Linked DNA regions of Homo sapiens. The main gene of each other region encodes a partner of the protein of the gene in region 3 in a complex. Each region holds a gene or a part of one and is shown on either strand. Other genes may lie near its edges.

Region 1 (7,038 bases), on a different chromosome or scaffold from region 3:
CACCTGAATAGCTGGGATTACAGTACGTGCCACCATGCCTGACTAATTTTTTTTTTATATTTTTTAGTAGAGATGGGGTTTTGCCATGTTGTCCAGGTTGGTCTCGAACTCCTCACCTCAACTGATCTACCTGCCTCGGCCTCCCAAAGTGCTGGGATTACACGTGTGAGCCACATATCCAGCCACAAATCAGTATTGTGTGCCATCATAGTGGATCTGATGAGCTTAAGGTTCAGTTTCTTCACTATGCTTATATGCTCACTCTAAGAAGAGGTTGGCAAACTTTTTCTTTCCCTTTTTTTTTTTTTTTTTTGAGGCAGGCTGGAGTGTAGTGGCACCATCACAGCTCACTGCAGCCTCCACCTCTCTGGACTCTGGTACTCTGGTGATCCTCCCACCCCTGCCTCCCGAGTAGCTGGAACCATAGGCACATGACACTACTCCCGACTAATTGTTGTATTTTTCTATAGAGACAGGATTTTGCCATGTTGCCCAGGCTGGTCTTGAATTCCTGGGCTCAAGCCATCCACCTGCCTCGACTTCCCAAAGTGTTGGGATTACAGGCATAAGCCACCATGCCTGGCCAACTTTTTCTATAAAAGGCCAGACAGTAGCTTTGTGGGTCATATGGTCTCCTCAACTCTGCTGTTACTGCACAAAAACAGCCTTAGACACAGGAACAGCTACAGTAGCTATATCCCAATAGAACTTTTGTTATCAACACTAAACTTTGAATTTCATATAATTTTCACTTGTCACAAGATATTCTTTTGGTTTGTTTCAAACATTAAAAATGTTAAAACCATTCTTAGCCAAACAATGTCAACAGGTTGATTTTTACTCCTAATGCAGAGTAGATATTGGTTCTTCCTTCACCGTCATCCTAGATTCCCTTATCCTTTTTCTTGGATCAGATCTCCTGTTTCCTGAGTTCACATATTCCTCATTTTGTGGTTTACCCCCTCAGTTTGATGGTGTACTTCCTTTAGTATTTTCCTGAGAGAATGTATGAAGAAGTGAGAATTTTTTAGATTTGTAACCCTTAAATGCCTTCAATCTTGTCTCTCATTTTTGACATTATGGGCATGTAATTCAAGAATAGAAATTCTAGGCCGGGCGCAGTGGCTCACACCTGTAATCTAAGCACTTTAAGAGGCCGAGGCGGGTGGATCACTTGAGGTCAGGAGTTCGAGACTAGCCTGACCAACATGGTGGAATCCCGTCTCTACTAGAAATACAAAAATTAGCTAGGCGTGGTAGCAGGCGCCTGTAATCTCAGCTACTTGGGAGGCTGAGGCAGGAGAATTGCTTGAACCTGGGAGGCGGAGGTTACAGTGAGCCGAGATCACGCCATTGCACTCCAGCTTAGGCAACAAGAGTAAAACTCCATCTCAAAAAAAAAAATAAATAAAAAGAGAATTCTAGCTGGATGCAGTTGCACATGTCTGCAGTCCCAGCTACTTGTGAGGCTGAGGCAGAACAATCACTTGAGGCCAGGAGTTTGAGGCTGTAGTGCACTATGATTGCACCTGAGAAAGAGGCCAGGTGCAGTAACTGACGCTTGTAATCCCGCTACTTTGGGAGGCTGAGGCAGGTGGATTGCTTGAGCTCAGGAGTTCAAGACCAGCCCGGGCACCATGGCAAAACCTTGTCTATAAGAAATACAAAAATTAACTGGGCGTGGTGGTCGAGTCTGTAGCCCCTGCTACTCGGGAGGTGGAGGTGGGAGGATGGCTTGGGCTGGGGAGGCAGAGGTTGCATTGAGCCAAGATCATGCCTCTGCACTCCAGCCTGGAAGACAGAGCCAGACTCAGTCACCAAAAAACCAAAAACAAAAACAAAAAAAAAATGGAAATTATTTTCTCCTAAGATTTTGAAGGCATTGCTACATTTAAATCTAGTTATTGGCTGGGCGTGGTGGCTCATGCCTGTAATCTCAACACTTCGAAAGGCCAAGGCAGGCGGATCACCTGAGGTCAGGAGTTCAAGACCAGCCTGGCTAACATGGTGAAACCCCATTTCTACTAAAAATACAAAAAAATTAGCCGGGCATGGTGGCGTGAGCCTGTAATCCCAGCCACTCGGGAGACAGGCAGGAGAATCGCTTGAATCCTGGAGGCAGAGGCTGCAGTGAGCCAAGATCGTGCCATTGCACTCCAGCTTGTGTAACAAGAGCAAAACTCCATCTCAAATAAATAAATAAGCCTAGTTATCTAGTTTTCATTTGCTGTGGAGAAGTCTGAATTTCTTCTGTTTCATAAACTTTTGTATTTACCATTTTTTTCTTCCTCTCTATAAACTGATGTTTGGTTCACCCCGATACATTGAAACTTCACAGTGATGTGCCTTAGTATTGGTCTATTTCATGTACTGTGTTGGGTACTTAGTAGGCCCTGTCAATCTGGTAACCCGTGTCCATTAGTCCTGTAAATTTTTCTTGAATTCTTTAATTGATGATTTCTTCCTCTCTCTTTTCTCTGTTCCTTCATTTTGGAACTCTCATTAATCTTCTGTTGGACCTCTGATTTTCTGACCTTTTGTTTTCTATTTTGTACCTCTGTCTTTTTGTTACTTTATAAGAGAATTCCACAGTTTTATCTTTTCTATCAAAGTCCAGTCATGAAAACAGAAACCAGGCCAGGTTCGGTGGCTTACGCCTGTAATCCCAGCACTTCGGGAGGCTGAGGTGGGTGGATCATTCGAGGTCAGGAGTTCCAGACCAGCCTGGCCAACATGATGAAACCCCATGTCTACAAAAAATATATAAAAATTAGCCAGGTGTGTTGGTGCGCCTGTAACCCCAGCTACTTGGGAGGTTGAGACATGAGAATCACTTGAACCTAGGAGGTGGAGGTTGCACTGAGCTAGGATCAAGCCACTGCAATCCAGCATGGGTGACAGAGTGAGACTCTGTCTCAAAAAAAAATAATAATAATAATAGTAAATCCCTTCTTTTACTATGTTTTTGGTGGAGTTTGCAAAGAGGAAAAGGAAAACCTGATATATGTTTTCAGTCTGTCGTCTTGGTACAGAAACCATCAAGGCTTTCTGTTTTCAGAATTACAGCTTTTTATAAGGGTGAAAAAAATGGAAATGTCCATCAACAAGGAATTATCTAGATAAACTGGTACAACCACAAAATGAAATCATAGCCACTAAAACTAATGCTATGAAAGAATAATACCATAAAAATGTTCTTAATATGTTAAGTGAAAAAAATTAAAAACCACATGTACAAAATGATTTTTAAGTATATATATATTTTATATGGAAACAGTATATACTAGCACATAGTAACAATATATATCAGCGAAGAAAGGAATACACCAGAAAGTTAAGCATGCTTATTTCTGAGTGGTGAAATGATAGAAAATGTGTAATCAGATTTTTTAAAATGCCTAAAGACAAAAGTTCCCAAGGAGTACCTAAGATCAAGCAAGTCTTCTTGCTGGGGCCTCATTATCTTACTATCTTCCCTGATTGGGTATGAGTATCACCCTGTTCTGCAGGGTTACCAGGTTCGAGCCTGTGTTCAAGGTGGTCTGAAATGTTACACAAACCCACAGCCCTTCTCCCTTTTCCAGCCACCTAATGATCCCCATGGTATCCAGAGAGAAGACCTCATCCTGAGTCTTCGCGCTGTGCTGGCTTCTACACCACGATTTGCTGAGGTGGGTCTAGCCAAGGTTAGGGTATATAGCCTCTGCCCATAGATGGCTCTGAAGAAAGAGCAGTAAAAGCATGGAGAAAAAAATATCTGGTATACATTTTAGGGCATGACACCCTGCAAGTGTCTTGTGTGGCAGGTATCTTCAGACCTTCGATGTAGAAAACTTTACCATCTCTTCATAATCCAGAGCTGGATTCAGTGGCACACACCTATAGTTCCAGCTACTCAGGAGGAGTCTGAGTGGAAAGGATCACTTAAACCCAGGAGTTCAAATCCAGCCTGGGCAACATAGGGAGACCTCGTCTCCGCTACACAAAAAAATAAATAAACCCAATCCCTATATGGTGCTGTCTTTTAAAATCCTGTAACTTTGTCAACTTGCCTGTTTTTGAGGTAGTGGGGCTCTGGTCACTGCTTGGCAGGAAGGTTAGCTTACATTCATAGCTCCTGACTTGAGTACAGCTCCTTGATGTAGTACCTGCTTTTAGGGACTGATGGCAAGGACAGGGTTGACCTTGATGTGACTGACACACCACCCATCTCAGGCTTAAGATCTTCCTTCTGTCCCACAGTTTCTGCTGCCCCTGTTGATTGAGAAAGTGGATTCTGAGGTTCTGAGTGCCAAGTTGGATTCTCTACAGACTCTGGTGAGTGATTTTTCTCCTTGCAGGACCCAGCTACCTTTTGACAAGTTAGGGGTCCTAAAGGATATAGATTCTAGGATAGCCAAGGAACAGTTCATGGGCCTCAGAAGAGGATACCCAGGATTTGGGCCTTTGTGTCGACCTGAAGCCCCCAGCTGCATATCGTCGTGTCCCATCCCCCATCCCATAGTAACTGAGGAAAGGCTGACCAGGACTCCCTCTTTAGGCTTCTATTTTATCAACCAGGGTTATCTCCTACTTCTCTGTTCCCTTAGTAGGACTGTTAAAAATCTTAACTGGTTTTTCTGCTGAGACCAGGGCTCCTTCAGGTGCCATTATGCTGAGGTACCTGCACATCCTAGGGTGTCTGAGTGTGTACATAACTGATAGCAGCGGTTTCCTTGGCAGAATGCTTGCTGTGCTGTGTATGGACAGAAGGAACTGAAGGACTTCCTCCCCAGCCTTTGGGCTTCTATCCGCAGAGAGGTGAGTGTCACTCAGATAAACTCACTACTGTTAACTTTCAATTGTCAGGCATGAGGGGAAATAATACATCCTGTCCTTTTCCCTCTGTCATCCCCAGGGCCAAGATATAATGCCTGGTTATTCAGGAGGCAAGTAGGGGGACATAATTCTAGTTGAATGACAAGAGAGAGAGTCCCTATGTGACGGTCAGCTGCTTGGTAAGAGCAGCTGATCACCTTTGCACATTACCCACTTCTTGTCCTTCTGTGGCAAGGAGTGCAGGTCATGGTGCCTTTGGCACCATGGTGAATAGAAAGGTGAGCAGAGCCACTGCTCAGAGTTGGCTTTTTGTTTCTCAGAAAGTATGTGTCTCTGTCCTGAGTGTGACTAAGGACTTGGTAAGAACACACCAATTGAGAAGACACTCAGTTGGGGTGTTAATTTCCATTTCTGTGTCCTAGAGGTTCTCACTCCCCTCTCCAACAAGGAAATAGGCAGTGGATTGGTGGGGTCTCATCTGGTGCAGGCTCACCTCAGTAGCCATGGGATCCCTCCCTGACAGGTGTTCCAGACGGCAAGTGAGCGGGTGGAGGCAGAGGGCCTGGCGGCCCTCCACTCCCTGACTGCGTGTTTGTCTCGCTCTGTGCTGAGGGCTGATGCTGAGGACCTCCTTGACTCCTTCCTTAGCAACATTCTACAGGGTAATGGGGCCGTGGCAGCCAGGAAGGGGAGTGAGCACAATAGAAACGACATTCCTTGCCTGGGTGCGGTGGCTCACGCCTGTAATCCCTGCACTTTAGGAGGCCGAGGCGGGTGGATCACCTGAGGTCAGGAGTTAAAGACCAGCCTGGCCAACATGGTGAAACCTCGTCTCTACTAAAAATACAAAAATTAGCCGGGCGTGGTGGTGGACGCCTGTAATCCCAGCTACTCGGGAGGCTGAGGCAGGAGAATCGCTTGAAAAGGCAGAGGTTGCGGTGAGCTGAGATTGCGCCACTGCACTCCAGCTTGGGCAACGAGAGCAAAACTCCATCTCTAAAAAAAAAACAAATGACATTCCTTAAGGGCCAGTGACCTTTATTGTTTAGTCCCAACATATTTGGTGATTTGGGGGCGATAGCCCTACTTTGAATTGAAAACAATTTGAGTGTTAACTGCTTGCAAACTGTCATGGGTCTCAGTCTCCAACCTCTGTGGACTGTAGGGGAGTCAGGCACCATTTGGCCTCCTCCCCAGCTCTGTGATGTGCTGCTTCTCTAGACTGCAGGCACCACCTGTGTGAACCGGACATGAAACTGGTGTGGCCTAGTGCCAAGCTGTTGCAGGCAGCTGCAGGTGCATCTGCCCGGGCCTGTGACTCTGTCACCAGCAATGTACTGCCTTTACTGCTGGAACAGTTCCACAAGCACAGTCAGGTAAGGGAGCAGAATCTTTGGGGGAAATGATGGGACCTGTGTGCTAGGTTCCCTTTCTCAGAGAGTGAGCTAAGTTTTAGCTTGGGCCAACATAGTAGACCTTGGGTTTTGCTCCCATTAGCTGCTGCTGCTGCTTCCCTTACTCACTTTTTCCCTGTCTCATACATAAAAGGATCATTCTCCCAAGACAGGAGGATAGCTTGAAGCCAGGAGTTCAAGATCAGCCTGGGCAACAAAGTGAGATCCCATCTCTAAAAAAAAAAAAATTTTTTTTAAATTAGCCAAGCAGGACATGCTGGTTCATGCCTGTAATCCCAGCACTTTAGGAGACCAAGGCAGGACAATCACTTGAGGCTAGGATTTAAAGACCAGCTTGGGCAACAAGACAAGACCACATCTCTACAAAAAAAAAAAAAAAAAATTAGCTGGATAAGGTGGCACGCATCTGTAGTCCCAGCTACTCAAGAGGCTGAGGCGAGAGAATCACTTGAACCTAGGAGGTCGGGGCTGCAGGGAGCTATAATCATGCTACTGTATTCCAGCCTGGCTGTGGCATAGCAAAACCCCCATCTCTTGGAAGAAAGAAAGAATTTTCCCTATATCCAGAGTAGCAGGATTGAAATCCTTTAAAATATTCTTTGACTCTAGTACCCCTTGAAACGTTACAGAGCAGCCAGCGGCGGACAATCCTTGAAATGCTCCTGGGTTTCTTGAAGCTGCAGCAGAAATGGAGCTATGAAGACAAAGGTGAGGTTGCCTTCCATTGCAGTGCTCTGGGGACTGTTGAACACTTCAGCCTATAAAGGATAGCAGGGCAAAGAGTGCTGTGGAAAAGTAGTCTAGA
Region 2 (4,812 bases), on a different chromosome or scaffold from region 3:
GGGGTGGGAGTGTGGGAGCTGAGGTGGGAGGATCACCTGAGCCCAGGAAGTCGAGGCTGTAGTGAGACATGATCGCGCCACTGCACTCCAGCCTAGGCGACAGAGTAAGACCTGTCTCAAAAAAAAAAAAAAAAAAAAGATTGGACTAGATGACCTTTAAGGTCCCTTTTAACTATAATAAGTTATGATTTTTCTCACTCATGAGAAATGTTTATCTCCGTAGTAAATAAGTAAATAAAAATTAGTTCATATGTTCCAGTGTTCTCTGGAAAGTAGACGTCTTTATTACAGCATACTCTCTTTACCACAGGATTTGCAATAATTTTGTAGGTTGTCTTAAAAGCTCTGGGTCTTGGAGGGTAGCTCATGTCTATAGGTGCAGCAGGGCCAGGAGGGATAGCTTAACCAGTATTATACTTGAGAATAAATTTAGCATGATAATAATGAATGAGAAAAGAAGGATGCTGAAAACTATATTGTGATCCCATTTTTGTAAAACAAGCAATGTGAAGAAACTTCCAACCCTGATATGTGGGTGTGTGTGTGTGTAAAATCTGTGTAAGATTATGTGGGTAAAGAGAAGAATATGGAAGAAACCACACTAGATTGTTATTGTAGATTTCCTGAGTCAGTAGCAGGGCAGGAGGAAGTTTAGATACCGAGTTGGGAAGAAGTAGAGTGCAGAAAAGAGATATTCTTAAGTAAAACCACACATATGAGATCTCATTTGTGTAAAATGATATTTTTGTGTATTCATAAAAAAATTAATGGAAATACCACCTGCAGGCCTTTTCCAGGTGAACAAAATAAAAAATCCTACTCATTTCAGTCCTTTTTTTTTTTAGAGAAGGATGTGGGGGATTTGTCCCTATGTCTCTGATGTTAGAAACAGGATTTGGGGGGCGCTGGGCGCAGTGGCTCACGCCTGTAATCCCAACACTTTGGGAAGCCGAGGCGGATCACCTGAGGTCAGGAGTTTGAGACCAGTCTGGCCAACATGGCGAAACCCCATCTCTACTAAAAAAAAAAAATAATAATACAAAACTTAGCTGGGTGTGGTGGCGTCTGCCTGTAATTCCAGCTATTGGGAGGCTGAGGTAGGAGAATTGCTTGAACCCAGGAGGCGGAGGTTGCAGTGAGCCGAGATCATGCCACTGCACTCCAGCCTGGGCAACAGGGTGAGACTCCATCTCAAAAAAAAAAAAAAAGAAACAGGATTTGGGCACTCATCCCTAGATGTTTGAATTTACTGTACATTCCACTTCACTCTCTTATCTTAGAATGCATTAATGTTTTTTCTTTTACTTTTTTTCCCACTTTCCAGTTGGAAATCTACATTTCTGAAGGAACCCACTCAACAGAAGAAGACAGTAAGTGAATGTTGAAACATAATTGAAAAACAACTTCAGATAGTATTTTATCTTGGATACTGGATTCTTCTGCCAGCCAAGAATCTACTGGGTTACTTTCAAAAAAGTGCACAATTGGTTATTGGCTCTTCCTTCCTAGGTGAGGAAACCTAGGCATTTCAAAGAAGTAATTTTTGCAGTGGACTCCGAGTGCACTAGAGCCCACGGATGTTGACTGGTTTAGGCCAGTGGCTACACATCTGTAAAGAATATCCAGTGCTGGGGACCTTGACTTATGAGCTCTAAGTAGGCTTCTTTTCTTTGGTGACAGGATAGAGAGCTGTGTACTTGAAATTGAAGGTCTAGCAAGTAGAGCTTTAGTGAATCTTGGGGTAGGTGCTGTCTCTCTGGGTTAGTATATTAGAATGGGAGTGGGGAACCTTTTTTATATAGAGGACCTCTGGCCTACAGAGAGAAATCAATCAGTAGCTACTTAAAAATAGCAGAAGTGGGGTTTGGGAAAAGCAAAAAACAAAATGTTCTGTATGATCCCTGTGTTACATTAAAAACATAATTTTAATGTTTTTAATCTACAAATGATAGAGTGCAAATAATGAGAAATACATTTAAAAGGCATGTTGTACTTAAGTTTCATCACTAAGTAAATTGAGAAGGTGGGAAAAAATAGCAGAGGAATGGAAGAAAGAGCTAATAGAGGAAGAGCAACAGTGAGATAGATACCAAGAAGACTCAGAAAGGCATACACAGGGCTGGAGAGAGACACACAAAATCTCCTACATAAAAGAGAGCTATAGAGAGGGAAGCCTGCTGCTTCCAGAGGAACAGCCTATCCAGGAAACTTTTTAGGTACTGTCATGAAAACTGTTAAAAACCATGCCCTATTTATAGTTCTAGACATGTAGATTATTATACTCTTTGTGGGCTGAATTTCTTTAAACCCCACGAGCTGAGGGCTTCTACCTGTAATTTAGAAAAATAAGAGTTTAGGTACCCTAAATCCACTCAGGTTATCGTTTTGAAATTCCTTGAATGATAGGATTTTACAGCAGCAATAGTATTAAGTCTTATGAGTCTTGTTTTTCATTTAGTAAGTATTTATTAAGTGCCTTCTATGTGTGGGTACAGTTCAGCCTTTGAGATACATTCCTGCCTTTGTGGAGCCTACATTGTAGTAGGAAGAAACCAAATTGAAAGTATTTTCGCAGGAATATGTGTATGTTTGTGTGTCTTCTACATGAGACATTTCAGCGGCAGCCCAGAAAACTCAATCCACATTAAGAATATAGTCGTCTCTCTTTTGAACTCTTCTATTAAGAATGCTGTTAGCTAATTACAGAAAACATAATGGGCCAATACCTTTATTATATGAAGATCCATTCAAACTAATTTTAAAAAAAGATCTAGTAGATTAATAGAGACATGAACAGGAAATTCATGCAAGAAGAACTAATATATGCACATGGAAAATGTTCTATTTTCCTATTAGTCAAGGAAATGCAAATTATGACAATAATATTGAGCCGTTTTCCATCTCCTGTTTTATGTATGTATATATGTGTATTTGTTTTTATTAAATAATACCAGCTATTGCCCGGGCATGGTGGTTCACACCTGTAACCCTAGCACTTTGGGAGGCCAAGGCGAGAGAATGCCTTGAGGGAAGGAGTTTGAGGCCAGGATTTCAAGACTAGCCTGGGCAACATGGTGAGACCCTGTCTCTACGAAAATATTTGAAAATTAGCCAGGTGTGGTGGTTCATGCCTGTGGGAGGCTGAGGTAGGAGGATCTCTTGAGCCCAGGAGTTGGAGGTTACAGTGAGCTATGATTGCACCACTGCACTCCAGCCTGGATGACAGAGCAGGACCCTGTCTCAAAGAATAATAATAACAATGATAATAATACCAGGTATTGTTGCCAAACTGATAGCTCATGTATTGGTGTTGACAATATAAACTGGTGAGTAATTTTAGGAAGTAAATCAATGATATGAATCACACCATAAAAATATTCATACTCTTAAAAATAATCCCATTTTTGAGAATATTTCCAAAAAGAAGGCTATATGTTTAAAGGTATTCATTGTAGCATAGTCTTCATAATTACTTTAGAACACTTAAGACTTTTACCATGTTAAATAACCCTGTAGTTTAAAATATAGGCTTATGGGGGAAAAAATAGCAATTTTCAAAATTATATTTACTCTGAATGTAACTGTATAAAAATATGTGTATGGACAAAGACTGGAAAGAAAAAAATAGATGTGGTTAAGTAGTAGAATTCTAGTAGATATTTTTCTCTTAAGTCTGCCTTCTAGATGGGAAATTACATTATGAGTAATTAGCCAAAAACAGGTTTAAGTTCTCAAGGAGTTAAAGTTTTTGTTTCAGCAGGCTAATAAAAATACTGTCTGGTGCTGTATATTGACACAGTTCTTCTGCTAACTTTTGTCTGTGTATTTTTCAGTCAATAAGCAGATAAATGACAAAGAGCGAGTGGCAGCTGCAATGGAAAACCCCAACTTACGGGAAATTGTGGAACAGTGTGTCCTTGAACCTGACTGATAGCTGTTTTAAGAGCCACTGGCCTGTAATTGTTTGATATATTTGTTTAAACTCTTTGTATAATGTCAGAGACTCATGTTTAATACATAGGTGATTTGTACCTCAGAGTATTTTTTAAAGGATTCTTTCCAAGCGAGATTTAATTATAAGGTAGTACCTAATTTGTTCAATGTATAACATTCTCAGGATTTGTAACACTTAAATGATCAGACAGAATAATATTTTCTAGTTATTATGTGCAAGATGAGTTGCTATTTTTCTGATGCTCATTCTGATACAACTATTTTTCGTGTCAAATATCTACTGTGCCCAAATGTACTCAATTTAAATCATTACTCTGTAAAATAAATAAGCAGATGATTCTTATAATGACTCACTGTTTTTATTGAATTGTAAATTCCAGTGTAAATGTCAACTCCTAAAGGATATCTTCAAAGCTTTATTTTTGCTGATTATTTTGTAGAATCAGAGATCTGAGAACCAAAAGGAACCCTTAAGATTGGGCCTTCCTTCCTTCCAAGGAGAGTCCTGGACCCTTTCATAGATAAGGAACAAATGTGGAGAAGGCTAGATGGCATACACAATTTTGAAGATCAAGAAGTCCACCAAAGAAGTTTTGATTAAACCAACCTAAATGTATGGTCCGCACTTTATCTGTCCTTCATTTGGTTTGTTTTAGGGGTTAATGGTCATGTGAAGTATAGTAGCCTCCAACATGGCCCCCAAGATCCTCACTTCCTGGTATTCATGCCCTTGTATAGTTAACTTCCATATTGAATTGGAGCTGATGGGTGTGGCTAATAAAGAATGGCAGAGTGACAATGGGTGACTTCTGAGGCTAGATCATAAAAGGTATTGCTGTTTTCACCTTAGGCTCTTGG
Region 3 (7,079 bases):
CTGAGACAGGAGAATTGCTTGAACCCGGGAGGCGGAGGTTGCAGTGAGCTGAGATGGCGCCGCTGCACTCCAGCCTGGGTGACAGAGCAAGAGTCTGTCTCATTTAAAAAAAAAAAAAAAAAAACTCTATATGCACCACATCTGTGCTTGACAGCTCTGCTCCCTCTTGAGATGTGGAATACTCCAGGCTCTCAGGTCAGGATATCTGTTAGGCCCTGAGGATCAGCACAGTCACACAGGATACTACATGTCTGAAGGCCCACTGGGTACCAAAAAACCAGTAGGTACAAAGAAAAGGGAGAGAAGATGCAATCAAGGACTTCCGGATTCCTTACTGATTCTTCTGTGATAGCTCATGAGGCACCACTGCCAACTCTCCTATTAATGGGCACAAACTGCTCTTAGGAGATGGCCACAGGCAAGCAAGTAGAAACTATACACAGGTTAAGGTCTCTAAATATGTGAGCAAATGTAATGTAAAGGTTAAGAAAACATGCTTTGCAAAAGACAAAACGGAGCCTGAATAATTTCTTTCTTTTTAATTTTTGAGATGGAGTCTCACTCTGTAGCCCAGGCTGGAGTGCAGTAGTGTGATCTGGGCTCACTGCAACCTCACCTCCCAGGTTCAAGCGATTCTCCTGCCTCAGCCTCCTGGGTAGTTGAGGCACCAGCCACTAGGCCTGGCTAATTTTTGTATTTTTAGTTGAGATGGGGTTTCACCATGTTGGCCAGGCTGATCTTGAACTCCTGACCTCAGGTGATCCATCCGCCTTGGCCTCCCAAAGTACTGGGATTACAGGTGTGAGCCTCCATGCCTGGCCTGGCCCGAATAATTTCTTAGAAAGGGTAAATACACATGTGAACAAAGAAGAACCTGCACCAAGAATTTACTTTTTTTTTTTTTTTTGAGATGGAGTCTTGCTCTGCTCTGTTGCCCAGGCTGGAGTGCAGTGGTGTGATCTTGGGCTCACTGCAACTCCTCTACTTCCTGGGTTCAAGCGATTCGCCTGCCTCAGCCTTCAGAGTATCTGGGACTACAGGCGTGTGCCACCACACCCAGCTAATTTTTGTATTTTTAGTAGAGACAGGGTTTCTTTCACCATGTTAGCCAAGCTGGTCTCCAACTCTTGACCTCAGGCAATCCACCCGCCTCGGCCTCCCAAAGTGCTGGGATCAGAAGTGTGAGCCAGTTCCTGGCCTTTCTTTTTTTTTTTTTTTTTTTGAGATGGAGTTTCGCTCTTGTTGCCCAGGCTGGAGCGCAATGGCGCGATCTCAGCTCACTGCAACCTCGGCCTCCCAAGTTCAAGCGATTCTCCTGCTTCAGCCTCCCAAGTAGCTGGAATTACAGATGCCTGCCACCACGCCCGGCTCAAAAATTTACTTTTATTTTTAACATGCCTTCGACAAGGATGCACACCAAAGTGAAATAATTATGAGATTGCTCCTTATGACAGCTGAAGTAAAACAAAGGATAAAAACTATAAATGACACGGCATCATTTTATATTGGCATCAACAGAGGTGGGGTAGTCCCAGCTCTGCCACCCTAAACTGGGTAGCCTTGGGGAGATCCTTCATTTTTCTGAGCCACAGCTAAGCACACCCCATGCAGTGCTAGATTTCGGAGATCTAGCTTTCTAGATCTGATGGGTCTAGTGGTGGGAAGGTGGTATGTGTGCTTCAAAGAAAGCAAGTACAGGGCAATGTGCTAAAAGAAAAACCACCAAGACTCACTCAAGCTTAATGCTCTTTGTGCCATTAGCAACATGACAGAGAAAAGGCTGCATATAAGGCCTCTGTCGTGTGCATAACTTTGGCTTTAATGAGCCAACCCAGCAAAGAGTACCATTAAGGTGAAATCTGGAAACAACCAGTTGTCCCCAACCTTCTACAAAATCACCCTACAGCTTCTAAAACTCAAGAGAGATGCAAAACAGTAAGAGAACACTCAGAGAAAGGCAACATTTGGCCACAAGGATGAGGCTTTTCAGCCTAGACCTGCAGAAGCAGAGTATGGTCCGATGCACAGCGGGGAACTTGGACCTTTTCACCAAATCCCAGTGCCTGAATTCTTCAGGAGGTAACACGCAGATATCTAACAGGAAGTGCTTCTGATAGGCGGTGCAGTAAACATCTGGAATGCATCACAGCCAGGGAATAGCACAGACAGGATAGCACAGAGAGGATATAAGACCTTCAAGATGGCTCAAAAGACCTTGGGGTTGATGAACTATGCTGTTACTAAGGACTGTTTGGGGTACATTGATCATTGTTAGGGTAAAAAGCAGGTGATACAGTCCAGTCCTGTCCTCACACTTCACAATTTTTACTGGAGACAAGAATGGGCAGGATAAACTATGGGGCCCATAGGACCCTCCCATCGTCTGCTGTCTATCTGGCCGGAAAGCATGATGATGAACAAAGCAACCTTGCCTCTGTCAGGCACACCTATAATGGTTCCAAGAGCCACATTCCGACTGTTGTACTGCGGGTGGCAATGGAACGGTCTTCCGATTACCTAAAATGCCACAGATTCCCTTCTTCTCTAATACGCATCCGATTACCATAGAACTCTAAGATATCTTTTAAAACCTAGTCATATTAAAAGTTCCTTTTTCTCCATTAATCAGTCTGCCCCAAAGAAGCTTTTCCGTATTTCACAGGATCCTTAGAAGAGGCCAGCTAACTGTGATACCTAGCACCCTTATCTTTTCTCGATACACAGCGTCCTTCCTCCAGCAGAATCCTAAAATAGCAGCAGTCCGGATTAACATGGCTGTGAGGAGTAGGTGCTTAGCTGAATAACATCAGAATTAATGAGGGGCCGGACCCCAAACAGAGCCACCTGGTGGGCATGAACACCAGGCAGTTATGGGGCCGTTTCCTTCAACCAAGTGTCTGGTCCCTGGCTATCTCTGCTTCAGCCAGAACACATTCTGTCCCCCACCGAGGCTTTAAGGGCCAGCGCGCAGCACCCTCACCTTTCAGCAGGTCCGGGTGCACATAGCCCAACACGTCGGAGACCCCCAGCTCCTGGCGCGAACAGGTGCCTCCGTGGATGTGCAACCAGGCGGGCTCGGCGAGGGCAGTGCACAGCGCCGTGATAGACAGGGCGCCAGGCAGGGCCGAGGCCAGGCTACGCTCCGGCTGCTTGGGCAGAGCGCTGCCTCCCGGGCTCCTCCGCCGGCGCCCGCCGGGCAGCCCTGCGCCTCCGGGGGCGTACATGCCCGGGGCCGCCCGCCGTCGCTCCGCAGTCGCTGCTGGTCGCCGCCGACCTCCGCGGGGCGCGCAGAGCCTGACAGTCCGGTGGAGGATAGCAACGCTCCGGGTTCGCTGCAGGTGAAGCCGGGACTGGGCTGTCAGGGTTGACACCAGAGGATAGGGGGGTGGGACCCGGGGCTGACGGAGACGGGGAGGGCTGCGGGAATTCGGGGGGCGGAGACAGGAGACTCCGGAATGGGACTGCGGGACGACAACCGAAGAGGGCCAGGGGCCAGATGGGGTCTGGGCAGACTCGAGTGGGGGGCGGAGGGATCGGGGATCGGCTACTGCTAGAGCAAAGACCCGGAGTCAGGGTCTCAGCCAGAGGATGCCGAGGGGCGGAGGACCGGGCTGGGCCGCGGGGATCGGGGACCCGTGATCTGGGACCGGCGGTTTGGGGTGCGACCTGTGCGCAGAAAAGACCCTCCCCACGCCGCCCACTGTTCCTCACCAGTCAGCAGGCCCCAGGGCTGGGATGGTGCTGCTCAGCCCAGTCACGGGCTTCTCGGCTGCCGGGGGCCGAGCGTTCCCAGGCCCCAATCCCGCAACGCCCGGACAGACCCGGGGCCGATGCACTTCCGGCTTCCTCCTCCTCTGCCTCCGCCTCCTCCGGCTCCCCGCCCCGTCCCCCGCGCGCGTCACAGCCTGGGCGCGCCGCCGGCTCTGCGCAGGGCCTCACGGGACTGGTAGTTCGAGGCGGTCCCGCGATGCTTTCCCTGCCGAGGTGAGGGGAGCGACTACAACTCCCAGAGGGTATGGCGGCCGCAGCAGTGGGCAGTTGAGTTTCCGGGGCGACCCAGGTCCTCCGGCGGAAGCGGGAGCCTCTGTCGGCCGCGGAAGCCTGGAGTGGGCGGTACGCAGACGCGCGCGGTGAGACCCGCTGTCTGCTCAGCGGACTCTGCCCGCCCCCACCTCCCCCTGCGTCGGGCCGACATGAAGGACTCGCTGGTGCTGCTGGGCCGTGTCCCGGCGCACCCGGACTCCCGCTGCTGGTTCCTGGCCTGGAACCCCGCGGGGACCCTGCTGGCCTCGTGCGGCGGCGACCGGAGAATCCGCATCTGGGGCACGGAGGGTAAGGCCCAGCCTGGTTGCGCGGCCCTCAGCGCTGAGGGCTCAGCCTGCGCGTAGTGCAGGCGCTCAGCCTGCAGGGGAGGCTGAACCTGTTCCTGGCGGAGGGAGAGTGGGATGTTAGCCACGCCGAGAAGGGCTTTACAGGCAAAGAAGTCTGCGACTGTTGGGAGGAAAAACGTCAGCAGACAAGCTGAAATGTCAAGGGAATTGTGTTAGCTGCAGAGGCAGGAAAATGGGAAAAGAGAGGTGTTAGGAAAGTGGCCTTCAGAGTAACTTGCGACTGGATGGTCACATTTTATCCCGAGGGCATTGGGGAACCAATAGCAATTTTAGATCAGATTTGTTTTAGAAAGATGCCTCCAGAGGTTGGGCGCGGTGGCTCACGCCTGTAATCCTAGCAGTTTGGGAAGCAGAGGCGGGTAGATCACCTGAGGTCAAGAGGTCAAGACCAGCCTGGCCAACATGGTGAAACCCCGTCTCTACTAAAACTACAAAATTAGCTGGGCGTTGTGGCGGGCACCTGTAATCCCAGCTACTCGGGAGGCTGAGGCAGGAGAATCCCTTGAACCCAGGAGGCGAAGATTGCAGTGAGCCGAGATTGTGCCATTGCACCCCAGCCTGGGCATCAGAGCAAAAACTCCGTCTCAAAAAAAAAAAAAAAAAAAAAAAAAAGCTTCCAGACGAAGTAGATTCATTTGCATCTTTGTAAAAGCTGTGAAATACACTCCCTGAGCTTTCCCCCACTAGCTTGATTCCAGTGCTAGCCCCTGATATTGAATGGCTTCATGGTGCTGCACCCAGCTCCAGAGCCTGGCCTGCGCTCCGCCTTTAGGTGACAGCTGGATCTGCAAGTCTGTCCTTTCTGAAGGCCACCAGCGCACCGTGCGGAAGGTAGCCTGGTCCCCCTGCGGTAATTACCTGGCCTCTGCCAGCTTTGATGCTACCACTTGCATTTGGAAGAAGAACCAGGATGACTTTGAGGTACCCAGGCTGGTTGGGACCAGAATTATTGCCTGTTTCCTCCCCAGGGCTGGTTCAGGAACCTGAGCCAACCTGCGCCAGTTGGGCTGTACCCATGGGAAGGGGCTTAGGGGTGTTAGCTGCTGTTAATTCTCATTTTCTTTCCCCTTTCACAGTGTGTAACCACTCTCGAGGGCCATGAAAATGAGGTCAAGTCAGTGGCTTGGGCCCCATCTGGCAACCTCCTGGCCACTTGCAGCCGAGATAAGAGCGTTTGGGTCTGGGAAGGTGAGGCCAGGTCCCTCCAGGTGGATTGGGAACCACCTGACAGCCCCCTCTGTGTCCCTGACAGGGTCGGCTCTTGGGTCCCCTTTTTCTCTCCCACAGTTGATGAAGAGGATGAGTATGAATGTGTCAGTGTTCTCAACTCCCACACACAGGATGTCAAGCATGTGGTTTGGCACCCAAGTCAGGAGGTAAGAGTCAAGCAGGGACTCTTGTGGGAAGGGCTCTGGTGTGCAGGCTTGTGCCCAGCCTTCCTCTGCTTTTCAGCCTTAATCTAGCTTTTACGGAGAGTTCCATCTGTGAACAAAAAACATTAGTCCCTTTATAAAAACAGATCCGGCTGGGTGTGGTGGCTCACACCTATAATCTCAGCACTTTGGGAGGCCATGGTGGGTGGATCATCTGAGGTCAGGAGTTCGAGACCAGCCTGGCCAACATGGTGAAACTCCGTCTCTACTAAAAATACAAAATTAGCGGGCATGGTGGCACATGCCTGTAATCCCAGCTATTCGGGAGGCTGAGGCAGGAGAATCACTTGAACCCAGGAGACGGGGGTTACGGTGAGCCGAGATCGTGCTATTGCACTCCAGCCTGGGCAACAACAGCAAACTTCATCTCAAATAAATAATAAAATAAAATAAAAGCAGATACCTGGAACTGACCTGTCCTTTGCTTCCTGGGCCACACAGACACATGTTGGGTTTCCTTTCACTCTTCCCCCAGCTCTTAGCTTCTGCCAGCTATGATGACACAGTGAAGCTGTACCGGGAGGAAGAGGATGACTGGGTATGCTGTGCCACCCTTGAGGGCCATGAATCCACTGTGTGGAGCTTGGCCTTTGACCCGAGTGGCCAGCGCCTGGCGTCTTGTAGTGATGACCGTACTGTGCGTATCTGGCGTCAGTATCTACCAGGCAATGAACAAGGTGAGGTCCATTAGTAGAGCTAAAGAAGACCCATCTCTCAAGGGGTTCACAGTCTGCTAAGACACGTACATGAGTCAGAGCAAATGGGGGTAAAAGGTAAGATGTGCTACAAGAGGGCTCTGGATAGAGTGCTGGAAGAATCAGGAAAGTTTTGTAGAATGGGTTGTTTCATCTGAATTTAAAAGGGTATGTAGGATTTTAACATGAGAATTTCACGTGAGAATTCAAGTGAAAACTCAACAGTGTGAGTAAAGATAACAATGGCGGGAATGCTTAGACTGAGGGGTGGTAATGCATTTAAATGGGGCATAGGACGTCTGGGGTTTGGAGAGGAATAAAGTGGGTTGGGTCGGCTGGTGGGTGGCCTTCACAGGCACGCAAAGTAGTTACATACAGTCTGCAACAGAACAGGGATGTTTCCTCGGAATTCTGCTTGAGAAACGCCAGTCTGGCTATAGTGTGTAAGGCAGATAAGCAGGGATGGGGACACGAACGGAGACACAGACTCATAATCAGTTGAAGATGAGGGTGAGGGAAGGTAAGTTAGGTTCTCCTTTGAGGTGCCCAGGACATAGGAA

The links. The genes of interacting proteins can lie anywhere in the genome.
Region 1: CIAO1 (region 3) and MMS19 share a complex: the UniProt entries of both Homo sapiens proteins name them as parts of the MMXD complex.
Region 2: CIAO1 (region 3) and CIAO2A share a complex: the UniProt entries of both Homo sapiens proteins name them as parts of the CIA complex.

What each region holds. Positions count from the first base shown.
Region 1 is NC_000010.11:97,467,408-97,474,445, reverse strand, and holds part of MMS19 (MMS19 nucleotide excision repair protein homolog), read left to right. Parts: intron 1-3,584; coding exon 3,585-3,671; intron 3,672-4,242; coding exon 4,243-4,317; intron 4,318-4,722; coding exon 4,723-4,800; intron 4,801-5,319; exon of another isoform or gene 5,320-5,341; coding exon 5,342-5,480; intron 5,481-6,039; coding exon 6,040-6,194; intron 6,195-6,842; exon of another isoform or gene 6,843-6,862; coding exon 6,863-6,941; intron 6,942-7,038. UniProt on the Homo sapiens protein: Key component of the cytosolic iron-sulfur protein assembly (CIA) complex, a multiprotein complex that mediates the incorporation of iron-sulfur cluster into apoproteins specifically involved in DNA metabolism and genomic integrity.
Region 2 is NC_000015.10:64,072,050-64,076,861, reverse strand, and holds the end of CIAO2A (cytosolic iron-sulfur assembly component 2A), read left to right. Parts: intron 1-1,324; coding exon 1,325-1,370; exon of another isoform or gene 1,371-3,833; coding exon 3,834-3,931; 3' UTR 3,932-4,297; downstream 4,298-4,812. UniProt on the Homo sapiens protein: Component of the cytosolic iron-sulfur protein assembly (CIA) complex, a multiprotein complex that mediates the incorporation of iron-sulfur cluster into extramitochondrial Fe/S proteins.
Region 3 is NC_000002.12:96,262,158-96,269,236, forward strand, and holds the start of CIAO1 (probable cytosolic iron-sulfur protein assembly protein CIAO1), read left to right. Parts: upstream 1-4,067; 5' UTR 4,068-4,193; coding exon 4,194-4,332; intron 4,333-5,163; coding exon 5,164-5,312; intron 5,313-5,467; coding exon 5,468-5,579; intron 5,580-5,678; coding exon 5,679-5,767; intron 5,768-6,299; coding exon 6,300-6,501; intron 6,502-7,079. Other genes in the region: TMEM127 (transmembrane protein 127), read right to left, coding at 2,981-3,224. UniProt on the Homo sapiens protein: Key component of the cytosolic iron-sulfur protein assembly (CIA) complex, a multiprotein complex that mediates the incorporation of iron-sulfur cluster into extramitochondrial Fe/S proteins.